2 separate regions of the Homo sapiens genome follow, and region 2 is linked to region 1. The links come from fine-mapping of genetic effects on gene expression. Tissue or cell type: whole blood. Region 1 holds a variant in brackets; the other region holds the start of a gene. All regions are shown on one strand. Distances are from middle to middle.

Region 1 (2,752 bases):
CCTTCCAGGAAGCAGGGACATCATCAAGAACTGGACTTCTTTGTTTCCCCACTGCCCAGCCTACCCCACCCTTCCTGGGCTGCAGCCAGCTCAGGAGCCTGTTGCCCTGATGGTGGAGTCCTTTCAGGACAGGGAGGCTGTGCCTGTCTCTGCCTGTGGGCCAGAGTGCCACGCTGCTATGTGCCAGGATATGTGGCCAAGTGTGACAGAGATTCCTAGATGCTGACGAGCCTCTCATTGCACAGTGGTACAGTGTCTGGCCAACTGTCTATCCCCAGCCATCTGGTTCTCCCAGTTACTTCTGCGGGTGAAGGTGAGGAGATGAGAGGCCTGCTCTAGGAAATGGGTTGGGGGCCGGAGGGGCCCTGGTGGGGATTGCCGTGAGCCTCTCTTACTCCCGGATGTCCCTGGTGAGAGGAGCCACTTTTGTGTTGCTTTTGTGCTGAATCCTGATTCAATATTTAGACATTTTTTTAAAAATTTATTTTATGAATATATGAATAGTATTTTCATTCTCTTGCTATTCCTCAAAGTACTATAGGAAAGAAGGGAAGTAACATTTATTGAAAGTCTTCTGTGTACCAGTCACTACTGGAAATGCTTTAAATATCTTAATTATAATGTAATATATATTAATATATCTATAAACAGATACCTCAGGAATTAAGTTATCACTTACAAGTAGTCATTTTAAATGTAGTGCTTTGTGTTGGCAAATGTATATATAGCCAAGGTGTATTAATTTGGCCAAGGTAAATTAATTCCCGCAATGTGCTGTTTTATCTTTGTAGGGACATTTTAGCCATACCAAGAATCATTAGAAGATGCAAGCTGGAAAAAAGAAGGTCCCAGTTTTGGTTTTGAACCCTTCATGTTGCAGCAAATGTGAATCTCCTACAGATGGGTTTGGGGACTTACCTGTTCAAATAGCAGCCCGGTGTCCTCTGTGGGTGGGGGGAGGTTTGTCTGTCCTTTCATTCTAGTAAATCCACCATCCTCTGCACGAGAGCCAGGAGAATCCACATCACTTCAAAAGAGCCCCCAAATCCTTACTACGTACTACAGCCTCCTTTCGAATGTTCCTGGTTGAGAGGGAGATCAATTGCATTATTTACAAGTCAAAAAATTTTGTA[T/C]CAAACTTCCTATGAGCTTGGGCACTCATGGCCTATGGAGGCCCACCCAGACGCAGCCCCGCCATCATGCTTTTTCGTTGTTTTGTGGATGTACCCAGGGCTATTTACACACTCTTTCATTAAAAGGCTTATTTTTATATTTAAAATGTTCTAATCTTGGAGTGAATTTTACTAAATGCTAGTGTCCAATCTGTTCCCCAACTGAAGTTATCAGAGACAGAATCCCTTTTATATTCAAGTGGAAATTACTCATTTTCTCTTGGGTTTTCAATGTATCGTCTGACTGTGAGGCTGGCATTATTTTCTCTGGGTTTGAAAGCTTCCTGAGATGTCCTGTTTGTAAGCTCCTGTCCGCATCACGTTATCTGCAGGGAATGTGCTCCCTCCAGGGAGTGTCCTCGGCACTGATGTGGGAAGAGCCCCCTCTATAAGTCATCATGGCATTCGGTCATGGGAGAGTTCCATACGGGAAAGATGGAGCAGAGGAAGACAAGGTGTTGAAACCAGTACAGCACCACCTGGGATATGGATGATCCAGAATTACAGGACACGTCTTCATTAAGCCTGGGTAAGATCCCAGAGCTATGACTCGATCAAAAAATGCCAGTTCGTGCCAAACAACCAAAGCCGGGAAAGAGGGAGAAGGTATTGGCGTTTGTAGCCTTACGAAAGATCTTTATGAAGAGCTTTAGTTTGTTCTTCTCTTTTCCAAAATGAGATACACGTCTAATTTTTACGGGAAAAAAAGAAAACTCTTAGATGGACAGCATGTTCTTTTTTGTGTGTAAACTCTTCCTTCTCACCCTCGTTCATGGAGAGAGCAGGTGTCCACCCGGTGTCAGGTGGGTGTTTTGTAGCTGACGTGGCACGCGTCCCTCCAGCTGTTCATACGAAGCTGGCTTTTGTAGAGAACAGTCCCCGGGCATCCTCCTGCCCCAAGGAAAATGCCCCCGCTTCAGAGTCAGACAGACGTGAGTTCCCATCTCATCTCCACCGACCATCTCCACCTGACCTTGATGAGTCCTTAGACTTCTTGGAGCCTCTGGTTCCCATCTGTGTGGTGGGGAGGTTGCCCTTGGGGTTTGCCCTTAGCCCACAGTGTGACTCCTCAGTGTCAGTGCCCTCCCTCCTGGTACACAGCCCCTCCACCCCAAAGCAGGCCTTCGGTTCTGGAAAAGCAAAGCTCACAAAACCTGATGACCCAGGTGACAAGGACGAAAGGGATGAGGTGTAACTGGCCAGAATGTGGGTGTATTAGGGTTCTCTAGAGGGACAGAATAGGATAAGTGTATATGTGAAGGGGAGTTTATTAAGGAGTATTGACTTGCATGATCACAAGGTGAGGTCCCACAATAGGCCGTCTGCAAGCTGAGGAGCAAGGAAGGCAGCCTGAGTCCCAAAACCTCAAAAGTAGAGAAGTCGATAGTGCATCCTTCAGTCTGTGGCTGAAGGCCCAACAGCCCTTGCAAACCACTGGTGTAAGTCCAAGAGTCCAAAAGCTGAAGAACTTGGAGTTCGATGTTCAAGGGCAGGAAGCATCCAGCACGGGAGAAAGAGGAAGCCTGGAAGACTCAGCCAGTCTAGTCTTTCCACATTCTCCTGCTTGCATTATTCTGGCC
Region 2 (2,752 bases), 47 kb before region 1:
GCATTGTTCTAAGTATCTTCTAGGTAAATGCCTCATGTAATCCTCACGATCTCTATGCTTTATCATCCTATCCTTTATAAATGAGGAAACTGAGGGAGATTAACTATTTAATTTGCTGAGGATCATGCAGCAAATAGCCCGAAGAGGGATTCATGCGTTTCACCATAATGGTTAAGAACAGGGCTTTGTCAAAGGATACCTTCAACTGCAGCAGAATGATGGACTCAAATCACAGAGACACGACAAAGTGACGGGTAGTCAGCTGTGGGTTGGTTCAGAGGCTCAGGCTGTTCCGGCTCTAGGTGATTTCCTGCTTTCCTAGGGTTCCCACCAGCTGCCCTCATGGTGACAAAAAGGCTGCTGCAGCTCCAGGAAACTTACACTGGGCAAGGACAACAGGAAGAAAACAGCCCCCACCCACCCAACTCCCCTTTTAACTAGAAGATCTTTCCCGAAACTCTGCCTCAACAGACCTCGCTTACTTCTCCCTGGCCCGTACTAGGTCGTGTACCCATCGTTAGCCAATCGCTGGCAACGGATTGGCCCCGTTTTAATTTATCCAAAAAAGGCGCCAGTCTGGGCTGTTTGGAGCAGTCAAGGGAGCTCCGTGCTAAGGCAGGAGGGGCCTGGACATGCGGCTGCAGGAGTCCGGGCCTCGGTGCCCTAAGATGAGGGCTCAGTGGTGCTCAGCACCGCGCCGGGCCAGAGACTGAGCCGCCGCCGGCTGTTGAGGGTTGGTTGGCTGAATCCCCGGCAGGGGCCAGGCGGAGCGAACATCACCGCGGCAACTGCCTCCACAGCACACACTCCCGACAGTGGCTGCGCTTTTCCCCTTCAGCACAGCCCAAAGGCCCCGGCAGCTCAGCACCTGCGACCTCCTAGTGCCCTCCAGCCTACGGAGGAGTAGAAGTCCTTCCGGGGCCTCCCAACCAGCAGCCACCAGCCACCAGCCACAAAAGCCGTGAGCCGCGCGGGGCTGGCCTGAAAGCTCTGCGTCTTCCCACCGCGGCAACAGCAGCTCCCACCCGGAAGCGAGGCAGCCCTGCGGACCACAACTCCCAGAAACACCCGCTGTCTCGCTCAAGCTAATTGACCCGCTGCGCCATCTATTAGCCAACCAGCCACAGGGAGACGGCTCCCCACGAGGCCTAACAACCAATCATAAGACAGAGGAGGCGGGCGCTCCTCCAGCCGATCCACGGGGTGTTGTCAAAAGTTTGGCGGGATCCTGAAAGAATGCTTTCTTTAGAGCCCCACGGCTGCTCCTGTGAAGGGAGAAGCGACAAGCAGAGATATGCAGGGACCTCTCTGCGAAGTAATGACTTGGGGCAGACGGACAACGCCCACAGCATCCCAATAGTCTCAGAAGACTCTGGTCTCTGCTACTCCTGCCTGCGGTCCTCGCCTTGGTGCTCTCGCGCTTCCCGCGGCGTCCCGCCCCTCCCTCTCCTTATTGGCTCCCCAGGGCCTTGTGCGGAAGGGGGCGTGGTGCGCGGGCCTCGGCCAGGCCTGAGATGCCGGGAGGGTTTGACCCTGGGGCTGCATGGACAGCTTAGCGCTCGGCCGCTGGCGACAGCGGAGGGCGGAGGATCTGCAGGTTCCGGGGGACGTGGTGAGCCCCCGGGGCCTGGGCGTTAGGGACGGGAGGGCGGATGGCCCCTGGGCGGGTTCCCACCGCGCCTCGTTTTTGCCGGCGCGGCCCTGCCTGTGAGGAGGCCTGGCCCAAGACACTCGCACGCTCGCGTACGTCCCTGGGAGGGCGTGGCCAGTGATGGGCGTGGCCTGTTAGGGCGGGGTTGTGACGCCGCTCTCCCGGTTTCGCGCCTGCGCGGTCGGGCGCGGAGCTCGGGCACCTTCCTGACCCACACGCTCACTGGGGCTCCAGACCCAGGCTCCCTAAAACATGGGCCGAGACTCATTGCAGGACCTCGGGTGCTTGGTATCCGTGTCATGTCTTCTCCTGCCGTCTACACCTGACTGTTCCTGAGTCTCGTTCACTGAGCGCCTGCCACGTGCCAGGCCCAGGGCTGGGTGTTGGGGGACGAGTACGTGGGGAGCGAACACGCGCAGAAAATTACCCGGCATTGAGCGTGTTAGTGCTTCTTGGGCTGAGTCCATTAACTGATGAGCAGAGGGTAAGATGAGATGGTAATGGGGAGACTTGCACAAGATCCCAGGGTGCGTGGGTAAGTCAGGTATGTGTGAGACTTGAAGGATGACCGGGGGTAGGCAGGATGGGAGGTGACAAAAAACAGTGTTGGAGGAAGGAGCTTAGCGTCTTAGGGGCACTGAAAGAAGTACTGCAGGATTGGAGCTGGAAGACAGAGCTGCTTGGCATTCCTGTATTTTATCTTCCACCTCTGCTTGCAAATTGGCCAGTTCTTACTTAACCTCGTTTATTTCAAAGTTCCTCGCTAGGGGCAGCAGTGAGCAGCCAACATACCGCATATTTGCTTTTTTTTTTCTTCTAGAGCTACACAGGCTTGGTAAGTGCAGGATCCGTCTTCCCAGTTAATACAGGCAGCATTTTTTTAGATGTCTTTACTGCGTAGCGGGAATGACTAGCTTTCTACCCTGCACCATCTCTTTCCTCACTACTCACTGCCTGGCCGTGAAGCCAGTACCACTTAGGTTTCTATCACAGCCGCACCCCTCCTCCAGGTACCAATTGTTATATTACTAGGGTGCAGGTTACCCCAGTAATATAGTAATAATATGGTATAGTAATGTAGTATAGTAATAGTATAGTACA

The links. PIP is the estimated chance that this variant, and not a neighbour inherited with it, causes the effect.
Region 2: it holds the start of C10orf143, and the variant in region 1 is fine-mapped to the expression of C10orf143 in whole blood (TOPMed, PIP above 0.99).

The regions. Positions count from the first base shown.
Region 1 is chr10:130,062,423-130,065,174 of GRCh38, reverse strand. C10orf143 (chromosome 10 open reading frame 143) reads left to right here. Exons shown (of 4, transcript NM_001355042.2): 4 at 792-1,279. The coding sequence ends at 821. Among named protein-coding and RNA genes, the nearest start is that of C10orf143, 47 kb to the left of the region's middle. The variant T/C (reference allele first, on the strand shown) is at 1,134.
Region 2 is chr10:130,109,564-130,112,315 of GRCh38, reverse strand. It overlaps C10orf143 (chromosome 10 open reading frame 143), which reads left to right and starts at 1,486. Exons shown (of 4, transcript NM_001355042.2): 1 at 1,486-1,612. The coding sequence starts at 1,544. LOC102724883 (a long non-coding RNA gene) reads right to left here and starts at 1,023. Exons shown (of 3, transcript NR_188169.1): 1 at 200-1,023. RefSeq lists enhancers at 182-311, 792-1,121, 1,982-2,161, 2,322-2,431 and a silencer at 1,412-1,791.